Regions from separate parts of the Homo sapiens genome. Here region 1 is linked to region 2. Evidence: fine-mapped expression QTL. A gene starts in region 2. The other region holds a variant in brackets. All regions are shown on one strand. Distances are from middle to middle.

Region 1 (9,027 bases), 24 kb before region 2:
CAGGGACATGGATGAAGCTGGAAACCATCATTCTCAGCAAACTAACACAGGAACAGAAAACCAAACACTGCATGTTCTCACTTATAAGTGGGAGTTGAACAATGTGAACACATGGACACAGGGAGGGGAACATCACACACCAGGGCCTTCGATGGGTGGGGGACTAGGGAAGGGATCGCATTAGGATAAATACCTAATTTAGATGACAGGTTAATGGGTGCAGCAAACCACCATGGTACGTGTATACCTGTGTAACAAACCTGCACGTTCTGCACATGTATCCCAGAACTTAAAGTGTATATATATATAAAATATTTATATATAATGCATTTATATATATATTTATATATTATATATAATGCATTATATATATTATTTATATATTATATATAATGCATTTATATATATTATTTATATATTATATATAATGCATTATATATAATATATATTTATATATTATATATAATGCATTATATATATTATTTATATATTATATATAATATATATTTATAATATAATATATATATATTTATAATATAATATATATAAATATATATATATATTATATTGTATTATATTCTGGAATAGCTGGGACTACAGGCCTGCACCACCATGCCCGGCAAATTTTTGTAGTTTTAGTAGAGACAGAGTTTCACCATGTTGGCCAGGCTGGTCTCTAACTCCTGACCTCAAGTGATCTGAGAGCCTCGGCCTCCCAAAGTGCTGGGATTACAGGCCTGAGCCACCATGTCTGGCAAAATCCTTTTATTTAGAAAAATAAGTTTATTTTTCCCATTCAGAATGACAGCTGCTAATTATATGAGAGGGGTGCAGGGAAGTGCTGAAAAGAGAAAGGCACGGTCCCTGACAAAGCCTCCACTCCTGGGGCCTGGGCCCACAGACTTAGGTGAGGACAGGAATTTCCGTTTTTGTGCCCAAATGTTGCATTTTCCAAGATCACCCTGGCCTGCTATGCCCCCATCCTGTGCCTATAGCAGGAAGAGACACAAGCAACTGAATGTTAAGAGTAGCAAATTGGTAGAAGAACACACCAACAGGCACCAGCACATGCTGGAAGGCCAGCGACCAATGGACCGATGCAGAGATTGGTCGGGGATGTCAGAGGACAGCCTGGCTGCTGGGTGGCCCAACTCCAGGGAAATCCACCTTCCTACTCCATCTTCCTTCTGGCCTCTTCATCCACCTCGCTGAGAGCTACTACCACTCGATAAAAAACCTTGCACTCGTTCTCCAAGCCCACGTGTGATCCAATTTTTCTGATACGTTAAGGCAAGAACCTGGGATACAGAAAGCCCTCTGTCCTTGCAATAAGGCAGAGGGTCAGAGCAGATAAACACAAGCCACCTGCAGGCAGCAAAGAGGAAACTCCTCCAATACTGTTATATTTTTCTAAGTGTCTATTACCCTGAATATTCTGACTGCTTTTGTCACTTTCTAGTGCCTTCAGGTTTACTTGATTTTCACATTTTGTGCAAGGTTTCTAATGTTGATCTATGGGTGAGGACATGAAGTTTTGTTAGAAAGAGTACAGTGTGTGCATGTGTCTTTATAGCAGCATGATTTATAATCCTTTGGGCACATACCCAGTAATGGGATCGCTGGGTCAAATGTGGCACTATACACCATGGAATACTATGCAGCTACAAAAAAGGATGAGTTCATGTCCTTTGCAGGGACATGGATGAAGCTGGAAACCATCATTCTCAGCAAACTATCACAAGGACAGAAAACCAAACACCGCATGTTCTCACTTGTAGGTGGGAATTGAACAATGAGAACACTTGGACACAGGGCGGGGAACATCACACACTGAGGCCTGTGGTAGGGTGGGCGCCTGGGGGAGGGATAGTATTAGGAGAAATACCTAATGTAAATGACGAGTTAATGGGTGCACCAAACCAACACGGCACATGTATACATATGTAACAAACCTGCACATTGTGCACATGTACCCTAGAACTTAAAGTATAAAAAAAAAGAGTACAGTGTAACACATGTCCGCGGGGCCCACAGGAGCTGTAAACACTCACCCCTAGAGGTTGCTGTGGGGTTAGAGCCCCACAGCCTGCCCGTCTGCATTCTCCCCTAGAGCTTTGAGCAGCAGGGCACTGAAGCGAGCCATTCCCCCTGTCGCATGCCCTGCAAAGGGAACAAGGGAACTTTTCTCATTTCACTAATAACTCATTTTGTCAGCCCAAATTTGCAGAGCTTTATAACTCAGTGTCTTCCCCATCAGATTGCATTTCAAGATGCTAGGTGTCAAGTTGTTCTGGGTCATTATTCTACATGCTTAGAGCTTAGGTATAAGATAACTTCAACTAATAATTATAGAATTGCATGGAAATTCTAAGTACTCAGGTAAAGCACTGTATATTCAAAGCTGTAGAATGTATAACTGTAATTCATATTCTTTTAATTCAAATATTCTTGCTGTAGTAAACTGCACTAAGAATAAAACTGTAGTGACTGAGTGCCTAGATGGTACAGACCATAGAACATACTGAAACATTACCATCCCCAGGTTTTATTGTTTTGTAAGCTCCTGTTCTGGATTCTGTATAATTCTCTGAAGCCTTTTTTTTTTTTCAGGTAGTTAATTTGATTGAAATTAAATTCTTAATTTTTCCCTGCTACATACAGCAGCTGAAATCTTTAGCCTATTTTGGGCTGCTTCACATCTGTCTCAAACATGTACTTTAGAGACTTGACTAGAGTTTATACAATTTGGTATTTATTCCTCTATATCTCTTCTTTACGGGTACTCTACCATCATTTTCTAGTTGCTATGGCAGGCACAAATCATTCTTTTTTTTTTGAAACGGAGTCTCGCTCTGTCGCCCAGGCTGACGTGCAGTGGCGAGATCTCGGCTCACTGCAACCTCTGCCTCCTGGGTTCAAGCGATTCTCCTGCCTCAGCCTCCTGAGTAGCTGGGACTACAGGCGCCCACCACCATGCCCGGCTAATTTTTGTGTTTTTAGTAGAGACGGGGTTTCACCATATTGGCCTAGCTGGTCTCGAAATCCTGATCTTGTGATCTGCCCACCTCAGCCTCCCAAAGTGCTGGGATTACAAGCGTAAGCCACTGCGTCCGGCTCATTCTTGTTTTTCAAAGCAGCAAGTACATATATTGTTAACTGAGTTTTTAGTGTTCTACCCAGTAACAACTGAGGTCTGCCTTCAAGTGAAAAGCCACAGAAACAGGAAACTCCCCCAATACTGTTGTCTTTTTCTAAGTGTCTATTACCCTGAATATTCTGATTGCTTGTCACTTTCTAGTGCCTTCAGGTTTGATTTTTACATTTTGTCCAAGGTTTCTAATGTTGGATCTGTGGGTGAGGGCATGCAGTTTTATTAGAATATATACCTTCATTAATGGAAATAGAACCTCAGTTTTGCTCACTCTAGACAATCTTTAACTATATGTTAAATTGATTGATTTTACGCTTTCTTTCTCTACCAAACTGCCGGATTTTTTTTTCAGTGTGGTTGTAATGTTTTGCACTGCCACATAATTCAGAAAGAAAATAATGGTGGTGTTGGAGTATGGTGGTTAATACAAAGATATTATTAAGTTTAGATAGGCCGGGCGCAGTGGCTCACGCCTGTAATCCCAGCACTTTCGGAGGCCGAGGCGGGCGGATCTTGAGGTCAGGAGATCGGGACCATCCTGGCTAACACGGTGAAACCCTGACTCTACTAAAAATACCAAAAATTAGCTGGGCATGGTGGCAGGTGCCTGTAGTGCCAGCTACTCGGGAGACTGAGGCAGGAGAATGGCGTGAACCCAGGAGGTGGAGGTTGCAGTGAGCCGAAATCGCGCCACTGCACTCCAGCCTGGGCGACAGAGAGAGACTCCGTCTCAAAAAAAAAAAAAAAAAAAAAAAAAAAAAAAAAAAAAAAAAAAAAAAAGATTAGATATATGTTTAGGCATATTATGAGATTTAACTTATGTATCTTATTGATACTGAATAGGATCAAGGAGCTCAGAACATAATTGTTACCTTGTGACAAGTATAGCATCAAGAAGGAGTATTGGTTGCAATGTCCAAAGAAAAAAACCAAAGAGATCTCTTTTCCAAAGAGCTCTCCTCTGCCCGATGCTTATTCCATCCCATCCCTCCAACACATCATATAAACGTTCTTTTACTTTTCTCTCCCTTTGAATCTTAGAATTGGCTCTTCATCAGGGCACCTTCTCTTTAGCCCCTACGAACTCTCATTCTGCTTCTTCGTATTCTTTGTCCTCCCACTGGTTTCTGCTTGAGGCCTGCTCCCATTCTTTACTCAGTGTCCTGCAGAACAGTCTTCAAGCAATCCCTGTTTTTTTTCACAACCTCTTTTCTCTGTGCTTCTCCCCAGATTGTACCAAAATTCTAGCCAGATATGCCTAATTAATGGCCCAGCATAGATCTGAAGTCTCAGAATAGAAGACGACATAATTGTTACTCAGAGGTTCAGAAGTGATGGGGAGGGAACATCCTAGAACTGATACACAGGCAGAGAGAAAATCCACAGTTGACGTCCATTAGCCTTTTGGAGCACAGGTTGCCTTCTTCAGCCTTTTACTGAGAAGACGGAGTGTAACTCAGAGCAATTCATAAGCTTCATATTCTTTTCAGCTGAGAGGTTCATTACTAGGGCCAGGAGCATCTGTTTGAAAAAATCCTTCAGTGTGCAGATCTTTTCTGTTGTATATACAAATTCAGGTCTTTATTGTTGTGTAACTGGGTACTTCATCCTGAGCTGTGGGACTTGGCTTTCCAGGAAATGAAAAGGCATTAATGTCCCTGGAGAGTCACTTGCCAATAATTCAAGCTAGTCCAGACTGTTCCCAGTGAGTGAAAGCCTCAATCTTCATAGCATTGGGTGACAGGAAAGCAGAGGTAAAAGGGAAAATTTATAGCATCAACCTCCTCGGTTTCCCTGGATGGTGCTGAGGTAGAGAGGTGTGTGCACACACATAGTTACTGAAAATATTCACCTTGGAATCCCTTCTCTGACTAAAGTTACCACAAAGATAGAGACCTTAAAATTTCTGTGGGGAAGCAGGGTGAAGAGCAGAGACTATTTGATGAGGTAGACCATTAAAACAAAACAAAAAACTTCAGCTCAAAACTTGGGAAAGAGTTGGAAATAAAAATGCCAATAGACATAGGGATCCTACCATGCCCTTCATAAACATCCGTTGCAAAAATAATTCTCCTCACTGAACAAGGAGAACAAGTATTTTTTTGTCATTTATGAAAATTACCATGCCTTTGTTACTTTAATGAAGAGTCAGGCTAACCTGGGCTCACAATTCACTTATCGATACCATTGTTGAGAAATGCCACA[T/C]GTACTTCTGACTTTATCTGCATCACTGTGCAAAATACGTTTTTACTACTTGGCAAACAGGAAAAATTTACAATGAAATTAGAGTACTCAGAAATACTTAAAACAACTTAAGACTAGGCAGCTATGAAATTAAGAACAAAGATTTTTTTTCCCATTTATAAACACTTATTTTAAAACTTTCTACAAGAAAAATCTGTGATTTTTAACTTAGTTCTTGTATTTCTTCAAACGAAGGGAGAAAGATAATTTTGAAAAGAACTATTACATATTGTTAAAAATTATTGCTTTCAGTCACAGTGAGAGGGAACCAAAAATTAATAGACACCATAATGAGGCCGGGCATGGTGGCTCACACCTATAATCCTAGCACTTTGGGAGGTAAAGTGGGCAGATCGCCTGAGCCCAGGGCTTCGGGATCCGCCTGGGCAACATAGTGAAACCCTGTCTCTACCAAAAATACAAAAAATAACCAGGGCGTGGTGGTGCGTGACTGTAGTCCCAGCTACTCAGGAGGCTGAGGTGGAAGGATGAACCCTGGAGATGGAGGTTGCAGTGAGCCGAGATCGTGCCATTGCACTCCAGCTTGGGTGACAGAGACAAACCCTGTCTCAAAACAAACAAACAAACAAACAAACAAACAAACAAAAAAGCCCAACACCATAATGGATTACCCCTTACATGCTAGAAATGAGTGAAGCTATTCAAAAAACTCGTTTAACTTTTAAAAAACTACATCAGCTAATTTTATTATAATTATTTTTTACAATTAATAAACTGATTCCCACATAATTCAGTTTGTTTGATAAAGACTAATATGTAGCAACACTAGAATTACAATAAAATCCTAAATATATGTGTGTATTATATATAGAAGGCAGAATTGAAGTCATTTTGACAGTAGTATCTGAGATCTAAAAAATGAGAATTTAGTAAATCCAATCCTAGTTTCCCTGAAGGCACAACCTGTTCCATGAGACATTAACAGAGTTTATGTTTTTCAATAATTTGTAGAACAAGTACTTATTAGATCAAGACACTTAGATAGATGCTTTATACTTCAGGAATTTATTTTTTCACAATGATCCAAAGTATTAGATGAAGGTTTTTTGTTTTATTTTGCTTTTAATTGACAAATAATAAATATACATATTTATGTGGTACAGTGTGATGTTTTGATACATGTATACATTGCGTAATAACCGAACCAGGGTAATTAGCATATCCATCACCTCAAATATGTGTCATTTCTTTGTGTTGAGAACTTTCAAAATCCTCTCTTCTAGCTATTTCAAAATATATGCAATAGGTTATTGTTAACTCTAGTCACCCTACTATGCAATAAAACATTAGCACTTATTTAATGTGAAGTTTTTAATACAAAAATTATTTTAAGAAAATAAGCACAGGCTGGGCGCCGTGGCTCACGCCTGTAATCCCAGCACTTTGGGAGGCCGAGGCGGGTGGATCACCTGAGGTCAGAGGTTCTAGACGAGCCTAACCAACATGGGGAAACCCCGTCTCTACTGAAAATACAAATTTAGCCAGGGGTGGTGGTGGGCACCTGTAATCCCAGCTACTTGGGAGGCTGAGGCAGGAGAATTGCTTGAATCTGAGAGGTGGAGGTTGCAGTGAACCGAGATCGTGCCATTGCACTCCAGCCTGGGGAACAAGAGCAAAACTTCATCTCAAAAAAAAAAAAAAAGAAAAAAGAAAAGAAAAGGAAATAAGCACAGCCATTTAAGTATGTTATTCACAGTTACACTGCTGGTATATGGAGAGACAGGAGTTGAACTGAGATCCTCTAGATACAAAACCTCTATACTTAAGAGTATACCATTTATGATATTTTCTCTTTAACTCACAAATAAGGGCATCGAGGGTAAACTGACACAGGGCTAAGGACTCATTCATTGGTGAACAATTATCACACGATGATATAGAAAGGCTGTTGAAAAGCTTTTCTTCATCTTCTTAGTCAGTGTCAGAGGCAATTGGGTGATAAATATCTGGCAGAAGTAATACCTAAATAGCGGTCTCATTTTATGAGGTATAGGTCAGTTTTCCTTAGGAGTACGGAAAATGATGAAAAAAATTGCTATCAAATGTCAATAAAATATTGGGGACAATATGGCACAAGGCAATTATTACATTTTACTGATGAGTGAAGGACGTTCAAATAGAAAGAAGGGAGACAGCAAGGAAAAGATGGTTAAAATGATGCAAATGAGTTCAGGTGTATGAGATGCACCTGGACAAGAGGTGCTGTACAGAAGGGGCTGAGTGTGTAAGAAGGTTCAAGAGCTTGGTGAGCACAGAGTCATGGGGACTCCACATTTTCTAGGATTTAAATATGGAAATACAGGCTGAGAAAAAGAACAGTGAGAAAACTTATAGATGAGAAATCCATGGTTTGTGATATTGAAGAATGAGACAGTGCAAGCCTCATAGTCTAGGAAAACTCCAACACGATCAGGACAAATAATCACAGAGAGGGGCACAATGAAAGGAACAGAAGGAGTATGGAAGGAACTATCCTGGAAAGCACTACATTTAACTCCTTCCTCTAACCCTATAACCCAGTAGCCGTATTTAGGTTGATAATTTTCATTTTTTTCAATATTACACATTGCATCAGGTTGGAAGCCAGCACATACCCCCAGGATCCAAGCAGTTTTCTTGGACACGTCTACCTCCCAGTAATGTTTCCCTGATGTGATACTTTGAGAGCCCAGGATGCCAGTACAATAATTGAAATTCACAAATGTCTGGTATCTTGTCCCTCGTGCCCCATATATTATCTGTGGTTTCGGAGAGCTCACTTGTCTCTTATCTTCAGAAATGACAGCACATGAAATGTTGTTTGGAGCCACTGTCACATCAACTGTAGAAAAATTAACAGGTCAGCTAAGGGATATAATGTAACTTTATTTGTGATATGAGAGAAATCTTGATAAAGACTTGAGAGAAAACTGGGAGGAACCTTGTTTAGAAGTTATAAGGAGGGGTAAGTTATGTGTGTCTTGGAAGGAGAATCATAAATCTTAAAACATGAGCCTAATAGAGAACATAAAATTCTAAAAGATAAAGATAATAATAATGATAAGCCGCAGGGTGGCTTATGATAATGTGACTTCTCCTTACCCCAGTAGCGTCGGACATCTGTCAGCTCTGAAATGATAAAAATGCACAATATTGAATACAAACAAAGGAGTCAGCACTGAAATTCATTTTCTCTCCAGATTAGGGAAAGAGTAGGTATGCCCTATGGTAGGGCAGTAAATTGCTGAATGATGAGATGAAACAGCCACCTAGCCATTTCCCATTAAATATAATCCCATCAGCAGCAGACAATATCTATCCTCCCCTATCCCCTCTATCCATATTTGGAAACTGCACCCTCTTCCCTATTTAGCACCCTAACACCACTTGAATTCCATAACCCTGTTGTTGATCTAGCTCTCCTCACCTCTAAACACTTCTAGCATTCCTTTCAGATCAGGAGCTCGAAACACTCTCCTTTGATTTTTTGGAAAAGTTTCTGGCTTCTTCAAGGTCACGTTCTCCGTCCTAAGAATTAAAAAAAAAAAAAAAAACTTCCAAACCTTTGACCTTGTGTCCGTGGAACACCCCTGACTTCCTATCATTTCAACCCATTGAGGCACTTGAACTCT
Region 2 (9,027 bases):
CATGGTGTAGAGGGTGATGATAGAGAAATACTCAGTGGACCACACATGTTGGATACTTGAAAACTAGAAGCACAGAGGCAGTGGATATCAGTCTTGAGAGAGAAGTCTCAAAATATTAGATGAGATGATTCTGTTCCCGGAACAAACGGAGGGTCGGCTGCTGCTTCTTGCGGCCCAATAACGAGATGCAGATTTACTGGGAAAGAAGCGAATTTTTATTTCTGCGTACAGGGAGAAGGCCTAGAAAATATCTCCAGACCAACTCAAAATTACAAAGTTTTCCAGAGCTTATATACCTTCTAAGCTATACGTCTACGTATAGGTGTGCATTATTCATCTAAAAACATAAGTGATTAACTTCTTCAAATCTATAACTAAGGTCTGAGTTTTAAGACCTTCCTCTGGTGCCTCAGTAAATTTACCTAATCTAGATGGGTCCGGGTGCTGGGGTGATTACCCTTATCTTGTCTCTCCTGCTAAATCATTAAGGTTTGCGGAGTTCCTTCAGACCCTCAATAAACTTGTTTGTGGAGGCCTGGGAGTTCCTTCAGACCCCCATAAAACTTGTTTAATCCTAAACAGGTCCTAATCGATTCCTTCGTTATCTTGTCATGCTTCAAGGCCCAGGAAAGGCCTGGGCAAAACTCTCAGTGGGCTTCTGTTACATTCCAGCCTTTGTATAAGGGCACTGGCTCTATCAGCTTTTAATATTTTTTTTTCTTTTTTGAGACGGAGTCTTGCTCTGTCGCCCAGGCTGGAGTGCAATGGCACAATCTCGGCTCACCACAACCTCTGCCTCCCAGGTTCCAGTGACTCCTCTGCCCCAGCCTCCCGAGCAGCTGGGACCACAGGCACGCACCACCACACCCGGCTAATTTTTGTATTTTTGGTACAGATGGGGTTTCACCATATTGGCCAGTCTGGTCTCCAACTCCTGACCTTGTGATCCACCTGCCTCGGCCTCCTAAAGTGCTGGGATTACAGGCGTGAGCCACCGTGCCCGGCTTCAGCTTTTAATATTTAACTTAACCAGACGGGTGTGGTGGCTCACGCTTGTAATCCTAGTACTTTGGGAGGCCAAGGCAGGCGGATCACCTGAGGCTGGGAGTTCAAGACCAGCCTGGCCAACATGGTGAAATTCTGTCTCTACTAAAAATACAAAATGAGCTGAGCTTGGTGACAGGTGCCTGTAATCCCAGCTACTTGGGTATTCTTTCCACATGCTTCTCCTGCTCTTCGTATCTCACCTAAGCTCTGCTTTTGGGGGGCAGATACGGCCCACGGAGAGGGAGGAGCAAGGTTAATGATTTTTAAGAAAATCCAGTAGTTCCCTGAGTCTGGACTTGGTGCCCTAGTAGAGGCAAACAGATGCTGTCACCAGGGAAGCCCTGATGAAATGACTGGGAAAGTTATTTTTCTTAACGTTTTTCTTTATTCCCTTTATGTATAGACAAAGTTGCTTAAGAAGAAGCCAGACTGCCCAGCATGGTCCAGATCTTGACCCCTGACCAGATCCAAGGGGGAAATTAGACCCCCGAACCAGCGTATATACTGGAACTGACAATCCCTAATTGCCTTTAGATCATTAACATATCACTAGAGTGTTAAGTTACCCCCTCCCCCACACGACACCAAACAAGAAAATCTCCACCATTTTGTGTGCCTGGGTTGTATTGAGAGGTGACAGCATGCTGGCAGTCCTTGCAGCCCTCACTCGCTCTTGGCGCCTCCTCTGCCTGGGCTCCCACTTTGGCGGCACTTGAGGAGCTCTTCAGCCCACCGCTGCACTGTGGGAGCCCCTTTCTGGGCTGGCCAAGGCCGGAGCTGGCTCCCTCAGCTTGCAGGGAGGTGTGGAGGGAGAGGGGCGAGCGGGAACCGGGGCTGCGCGCCGCGCTTGTGGGCCAGCTGGAGTTCCGGGTGGGCGTGGGCTTGGTGGGCCCCGCACTCGGAGTGGCCGGCCGGCCCCGCTGCCCCGGGCAGTGAGCGGCTTAGCACCTGGGCCAGCAGCTGCTGTGCTCAATTTCTCGCCGGGCCTTAGCTGCCTCCCCGCGGGGCAGAGCTCAGGACCTGCAGCCCACCATGCCTGAGCCTCCCCACGACCCCTTGGGCTCCTGTGCTGCGCGAGCGTCCCTGACGAGCACCGCCCCCTGCTCCACGGCGCCCAGTCCCATCACCACCCAAGGGCTGAGGAGTGCAGGTGCGTGGCATGGCACAGGACTGGCAGGCAGCTCCACCTGCGGCCCGGTGCAGGATCCACTGCGTGAAGCCAGTGGGGTTCCTGAGTCTGGTGGGGACTTGCAGAACCTTTATGTTTAGCTAAGGGATTGTAAATGCACCAATCAGCACCCTGTGTCTAGCTCAGGGTTTGTGAATGCACCAATCGACACTCTATATCTAGCTACTCTGGTGGGGACTTGGAGAAACTTTATGTCTAGCGAAGGGATTGTAAATACACCAATCGGCACTCTGTATCTAGCTCAAGGTTTGTAAACACACCAATCAGCACCCTGTGTCTAGCTCGGGGTTTGTGAATGCACCAATCGACACTCTGTATCTAGCTACTCTGGTGGGGATGTGGAGAATCTTTGTGTCTACACTCTGTATCTAGCTAATCTAGTGGGGACTGGAGAACTTTTGTGTCTAGCTCAGGGATTGTAAATGCACCAATCAGTGCCCTGTCAAAACAGACCACTCGGCTCTCTGTAAAATGGACCAATCAGGAGGATGTGGGTGGGGCCAGATAAGAGAATAAAAGCAGGCTGCCTGAGCCAGCAGTGGCAACCTGCGCTGGTCCCCTTCCACACTATGGACGCTTTGTTATTTTCCTCTTTGCAATAAATCTTAATACTGCTCACTCTTTGGGTCCACACTGCCTTTATGAGCTGTAACACTCACCGCGAAGGTCTGCAGCTTCCCTCCTGAGCCAGCGAGACCACGAACCCACCAGAAAGAAGAAACTCTGAACACATCCGAACATCAGAAGGAAGAAACTCCGGACATGCCGCCTTTAAGAACTGTAACACTCACTGCAAGCGTCCGCGGCTTCATTCTTGAAGTCAGTGAGACCAAGAACCCACCAATTCCGGACACAGTATGAAGACATGTGTTTATAAACAGAGGTGGCACAACTGGAGTTCCACCCTATAGGCTAACACTCCTTTCTCTCCCCGTACTCAGTTCTTTTAAAGCCAATGCTTTCCACTGTTTTGGGGGAGGGGGCTTTAGAGAAGGAGCTCTCTTACTCTCCACTCCTAGCAAGAAATAAAACCTGCTTGCCTTTTTTCCCATTATCTTTGTAACCAATATGAACTAGGGAAAGAACTCCATTTACAGTGACAATGACAGGACTACAGAACTGGACAGCTGTCACACCATGAAGGCTGATGTCACAGAGCCAGGCCAAGGTGATGAGAACTGACCTGTAGAGTTATGCAGAAACACTACATTAGTAAACTAATAGGCATTAAATCATTAGGATTCCAAGGCCCCTGTCTTTGCCCTTGTTGTTGGGAGAAGACACTGAAAGAGAGAATTCTGGCTCTCTACAGCAAAGTTCAATTAAAAAGTATAGAGTAGGGAGGGGATGGGGAGAGAGTCAGCATGGAAAAATAACCAGCCTTCGGGAAACAAAGCCCTTCACTTTAAAGCTCTCCCTTCTTTCAAATCTGCCTGCCCGCCAGGCGGCTCTGTTCCCCTCAGTCAGCTCTGGCAGCAAGAAGTCTGTGAACTGTGTCTTTTCCCCACCCCCGCACAGCTTTTCAGATAAGTTAAACTCACCAAGGTAAATACAGTTTTGTCCCAAAGACTTCCTACTTCTGCCCTCCACAAAATCACTCAATACACCTTCAGACACCAGTGCAGAAGTGGTGATTCTGGGGAGAAGAGTGAAGACAGGCCAGGGAAGACGTGGTTAGGATTCACTCACCAATCCACGGGCCTGATCTGCACAAAGGAATTTTCCTAGAGGAACCGCAGGAAATTCTTGCTCACACTCAGGGCAGGAAAGTGAAAGATAAACTATGGGCCAATGGCATTTCTCCACGTAGGGCCTGGTGAGTCCCGCCCTCTGAATGAATCAGCCGGGCCGTGTAGCTGTGCTGTTCACAGGAGGAGCCGTGGGAACTAGAGGCATTCCCACTCAATCTCCCTTTTCTCTTGAGTCTCAGGATCTTGTTATCATGCCACTTCTTCTGACATAGTTTCAGATTAACCCAGCCAAGTATTAAAAATTAGAAAAGGTGCCCTTTTTCGAAATTCTTCCAATGTGCTCCTCTTGCTCCTGATCTCACAGCTGAGTTCTGCTTCTGGGTGACAGATATGGCCCAAAGAGAAGGAAGAACAAAGTTAATGATTTTTAGAGAATTGCAGTAGATTTCTGGTCTGGACTTAAAAATCTTATAGGACCTATGAACAGAAAAGGAGCTGCAGGTAGGAGAGATGTCATATTATTAAGACTCCGAAACCCAGAGAGGACAGGATGCTAGAAATTTATCTGGAGAGGGCCGGGCGCGGTGGCTCACGCCTGTAATGCCAGCACTTTGGGAGGCTGAGGCGGGCGGATCACAACGTCAGGAGATCGAGACCATCCTGGCTAACACGGTGAAAACCCATCTCTAATAAAATAAAATAAAATAAAATAAAATAAAAAATTAGCCGGGCATGGTGGCGGGTGCCTGTGGTCCCAGCTATTCCGGAGGCTGAGGCAGCAAAATGGCGTGAACCCGGGAGGCGGAGCTTGCAGTGAGCAGAGATCGCGCCACTGCACTCCAGCCTGGGCGACAGAGTGAGACTCCGTCTCAAAAAAAAAAAAAAAAAAAAAAAAAAAAAGAAGTTTATCTGGAGAGCGATAAAGAAATACCACATTATTTCTTTCAACTATTCACTTTCAAAGAACTCTCCAACTTCCCGCTGTTGTCTTTTCCAAAGTATCTATTGCATCCCTGAGCAGGGCCAGGCCTTCCTCTCTCTTCTCTTCTGGTTACTATGCAAAACTGGTCCAAAAGGCTGAACTGTGGTCCATGTACCATAGCCTCCCTTCTAAGCTTTCCCTTACTGGAACATCTCAGGAAGTCCACACTGGAACTAGGATCATTGGTAGAGAGGAGTATTTAGTTTGAAAATGAAAATGCCTCAGGAGAAGGCAATGGGGAGCACTGCAGTGGGCAGCCTGTTATCACTTAATTCCATCATCAGTAACCTCATACCCCCTCCACACTGTACCCCCGCAGCTTTCTGTTTCATGAAATCAGGTAGGGGGCTTTTGCATTTTGTTCTTTATTGTCTCAGATTTACTAGAATATGGTGTATATAAGGAGTAATATTTAAATAGATATGAAGATATATAGCTATTAATCTAATTTTAATTGAATATCTTGATGTCACATTTCTGTTCTATTCTTGCTGTAAAGATAACTGCTGTGTCACCTAGTTTAATTCAAATATTCTTCTGGCATTAGTAATAATTATGTGGCAGTAATAATTATAGTAATAATTATAATAATTAGTATTATTAATAATTACAATTATTAATAGTTACAATTATAATTAATATTACTAATTGTTATTTAGTAATAATTATGTGGCATTAGTAATAATTATGTAATGATTACATTTGCAGTGGCTCACACCTGTAATCCTCGCACTTCGGGAGACCAAGGCGGGTGGATCACTTGAGGTCAGGAATTTGAGACCAGCCTGACCAACATGGTGAAACCTCATCTCTACGAAAAATACAAAAATTAGCCAGGTGTAATGGCAGATGCCTGTAATCCCAGCTACTCAGGAGGGTGAGGAAGGAGAATTGCGTGAACCCGGGAGGTGGAGGTTGAAGTGAGCCGAGATCATGCCACTGCACTCCAGCCTGGGCAATAGAGTGAGACTCTGTCTCAAAAAAAAAAAAAAAAAAAAAAAAAAAAAAAAAAAAAAAAAGTAATTATGTAAATTTTTAAACAAATTTTAAACGATTTTTTAAAATATCCTCTCTGTTTTCTTCCTAAGTATTATTCAGACTCTAACCATATTTACTCTTATTTTGCTCTTTTTCTTGAAGAGAAAAATGTTAAATATCCATGGACCCAAAGGTAGAGATATTTCATTTGATTCCTTTTCAAGCAGGAAAGCAGGATATATAAGGTTTACAGGCTGGGCGCGGTGGCTCACGCCTGTAATCCCAGCACTTTGGGAGGCCAAGGTGGGTGGATCATGAGGTCAGGAGATTGAGACCATCCTGGCTAACAAGGTGAAACCCCGTCTCTACTAAAAATACAAAAAATTAGCCAGGCGCGGTGGCGGGCGCCTGTAGTCCCAGCTACTCGGGAGGCTGAGGCAGGAGAATGGCGTGAACCCGGGAAGCGGAGCTTGCAGTGAGCCGAGATCGCACCACTGCAGTCCGCAGTCCGGCCTGGGCGACAGAGCGAGACTCCGTCTCAAAAAAAAAAAAAAAAAAAAGGGTTTACAGAGAAAACACAGAGCTCCAACAATAATATATTTTTTCTACAATTTAGAACATAGGTTAGAATATGGAGCCTGCCAACATGCTCTACTCTGGTGATAAACTGTGTGTGGTGCATTCAGTTTTTCTATTGGCCCACGTTTTCTGGTATCTTGTCAGGACCTAATATTACTACTGTTTTCTCTCAGCTGCAATTAATACTTCATGAGATAAATCAGACCAGGATGAAAGTTCACTTCAGATGTTCAAAGCCAGACGAGAATAAAAGGATGGCTATGAGATCTATGGAAGTGCTGAGAAGGGAAGAAATAATGGACAGAGAACAGGTCTCTGGATAAATGAGTTCATTCACTTTGTCCATTGTGGTTGACACTCGGACTCCACTCTGTGCACTCCAGAAAAAACACATTCACTCACTGAGCGCTCACTCCCCTACAAATGTCAACAAGATATTCTATTCAAACATGGAATATACCTAAAATTACATCTCTTGCTTATTTATCTTCAAGAAGAAATAAGAAAATTTCACGCCTGTCTTAGTCAAGGTTCATCATAGCAATAGAACCACTAAACTATGAATTTATTTGGAAAGAAACTTGAGAAATGTCTCAGGTGATTCTGGAGACTGGCAAATCCAAAGTCTGCAAGGTAGGCCAAGAGGCTCTGGATCCAAGAAGGAGTCAACGTTATAGCTCACGCCTGAGGTTTGCCTGCTGGTAATATTCCCTCTTCTCGGGGAGAAGTCAGTTTTTTCTTCTATTCTGGCTTTCAGCTGATTGAATAAGGTCCTCATAGATATAAGTGAGTAGGAAAGAATTTATAGCCAGGATTAGCTTATTATTCTGTGAGCAACAAATAATACCAAAATATCTATTATTGAAATAATAAACATTGATTTCTCAGTCATCCTACATGTGTATCATTGATTAAAGTATGAAGATGGCCATGCTCCATAGTGTCAGTCAGGGATCCATGTTATGGAAGCTCCATGAGTTGCCTTTTTTTTTCTTTTTTTTTGGGTGTGTGTGTGTATGTGTTGTGTGGTGTTTGTTTGTTTGTTTTTTGTAGAGACAGGGTCTTACTATGTCACCCAGGCTGCAGTGCTATGGTGCAATGACGCAATCTTGGCTCAATGCAACCTCCACCTCCTGGGCTCAAGCCATCCTCCCATCTCAGTTTCCTGAGTAGCTGGGACTACAGGTGCACATCACCACACCCAGCTATTTTTTTTTTTTTAATTTTTCTTAGAGATGGGATTTCACCATGTTGCCCAGGCTGGTGTTGAAGTCCTGGACTCAAGTGATCCACCCACCTGGGCCTCCCAGAGTGCTGGGATTACAGGCATGAGACACCACAGGCCTCCATCAGTTTTTGATGGCATTATCTGGCACATGCAGTTAAACAAGAATACAATAGACAACAGGGTACAGAAGTATGTGCATGACGTATAACATGTTTCAGTGCTGCTTTTTAATTGATTGTGTAAAAATGACCAAACTTTTCTTAGAGAAGCAGGGAAAAGTGGAAAAATTATGAAGGCATGAGAGTAACTCAATGAATGATTATAATTAAACAGCATCATCTGTTAACTTCCATGTTCTCACCTGCCTCAGTGGCTGGGTAACATGACACTGACACAGTTTTACCTCTATTACTCTCTGGAATCCATCCTCATCTGGTCTGTCTGGATTAGGAGCAGGAAGTGATAATTAATTGATGGACTCTTAAGATTTAATGACATTTTGAGAACATTTTTTTCAATGGGCTCACACTAAAGATCCTTTTATTTATAAAAATAATTTTTTTACCATTCACAATGTCAGCTGCTAATACTCATCTTGTCAGCCCAAATTTGTAGAGCTTTATAACTGAGTATCTTCCTCGTCAGACTGCATTTCAAGAAGCTAGGTCCCAAGTCTCTGGATCTTTATTTTCCTGGCTTAGGTCTTAAATATAAGATAAATTCGACTAATAATTATAGGACTGCATTGGAATTCTAAGTATTCAGGCAAGCTGTATAACTGTAATTCACATTCTTTTTATTCAAATATTCTTGCTTGAGTAAACCACAGTAAGAATAAGGAAGTAGTGACTGAGTGCCTTGCCAGTACAGCAGATGCTAGAACATAATGTAGCATTACTTTCCCCAGGGTTTATTGTTATGTAAGTTCTTGTTCAGCTTCCTTTGTTTTCTTTCACTTCTGAGAATTTAACTTTCGTTTCTCACTCAGCTCCTGTGGGGAAACTCATTTGTGGAGACCAGCCCTCTGGCTTGGTGAGTGAATCTGGTTTACACCGGCTCCTGCCCTGCCTTCACTCTTCTCCCCTGATTCAAGACTCCTCTGCTTTGGACTGAAGGTGAGTGGAGCAATCTGTGGGAGCATAGAATGGGAGGCTTTGAGAAGAATAGATTGATTGTGTCTGGGTGAGTTTAATTTGTAGTTCTGAAGCTGCTCTGCATAAACAAAAAGAGGCAGCTTGTGAACTGTCTGCTGAGATGGCAGAGGAAGAAAGCACTGAGTCTGGGAGAGGGGTAACCTTTAAAGAAGAGAGGTTTGCAAAAGCAAAAAGCCTTG

Evidence for each region.
Region 1: its variant is fine-mapped to the expression of TRIM5 in whole blood (TOPMed, PIP above 0.99).

The regions. Positions count from the first base shown.
Region 1 is chr11:5,657,159-5,666,185 of GRCh38, forward strand. It overlaps TRIM5 (tripartite motif containing 5), which reads right to left. Exons shown (of 8, transcript NM_033034.3): 6 at 8,823-8,923; 7 at 8,498-8,524; 8 at 6,037-8,237. The coding sequence ends at 7,651. It overlaps LOC107984302 (a long non-coding RNA gene), which reads right to left and starts at 3,674. Exons shown (of 2, transcript XR_001748100.1): 1 at 2,052-3,674. The variant T/C (reference allele first, on the strand shown) is at 5,357.
Region 2 is chr11:5,681,091-5,690,117 of GRCh38, forward strand. TRIM5 (tripartite motif containing 5) reads right to left here and starts at 3,984. Exons shown (of 8, transcript NM_033034.3): 1 at 3,778-3,984. It overlaps TRIM22 (tripartite motif containing 22), which reads left to right and starts at 8,700. Exons shown (of 8, transcript NM_006074.5): 1 at 8,700-8,809. RefSeq lists enhancers at 3,742-3,991, 8,380-9,027, 8,494-8,833, 8,805-9,027.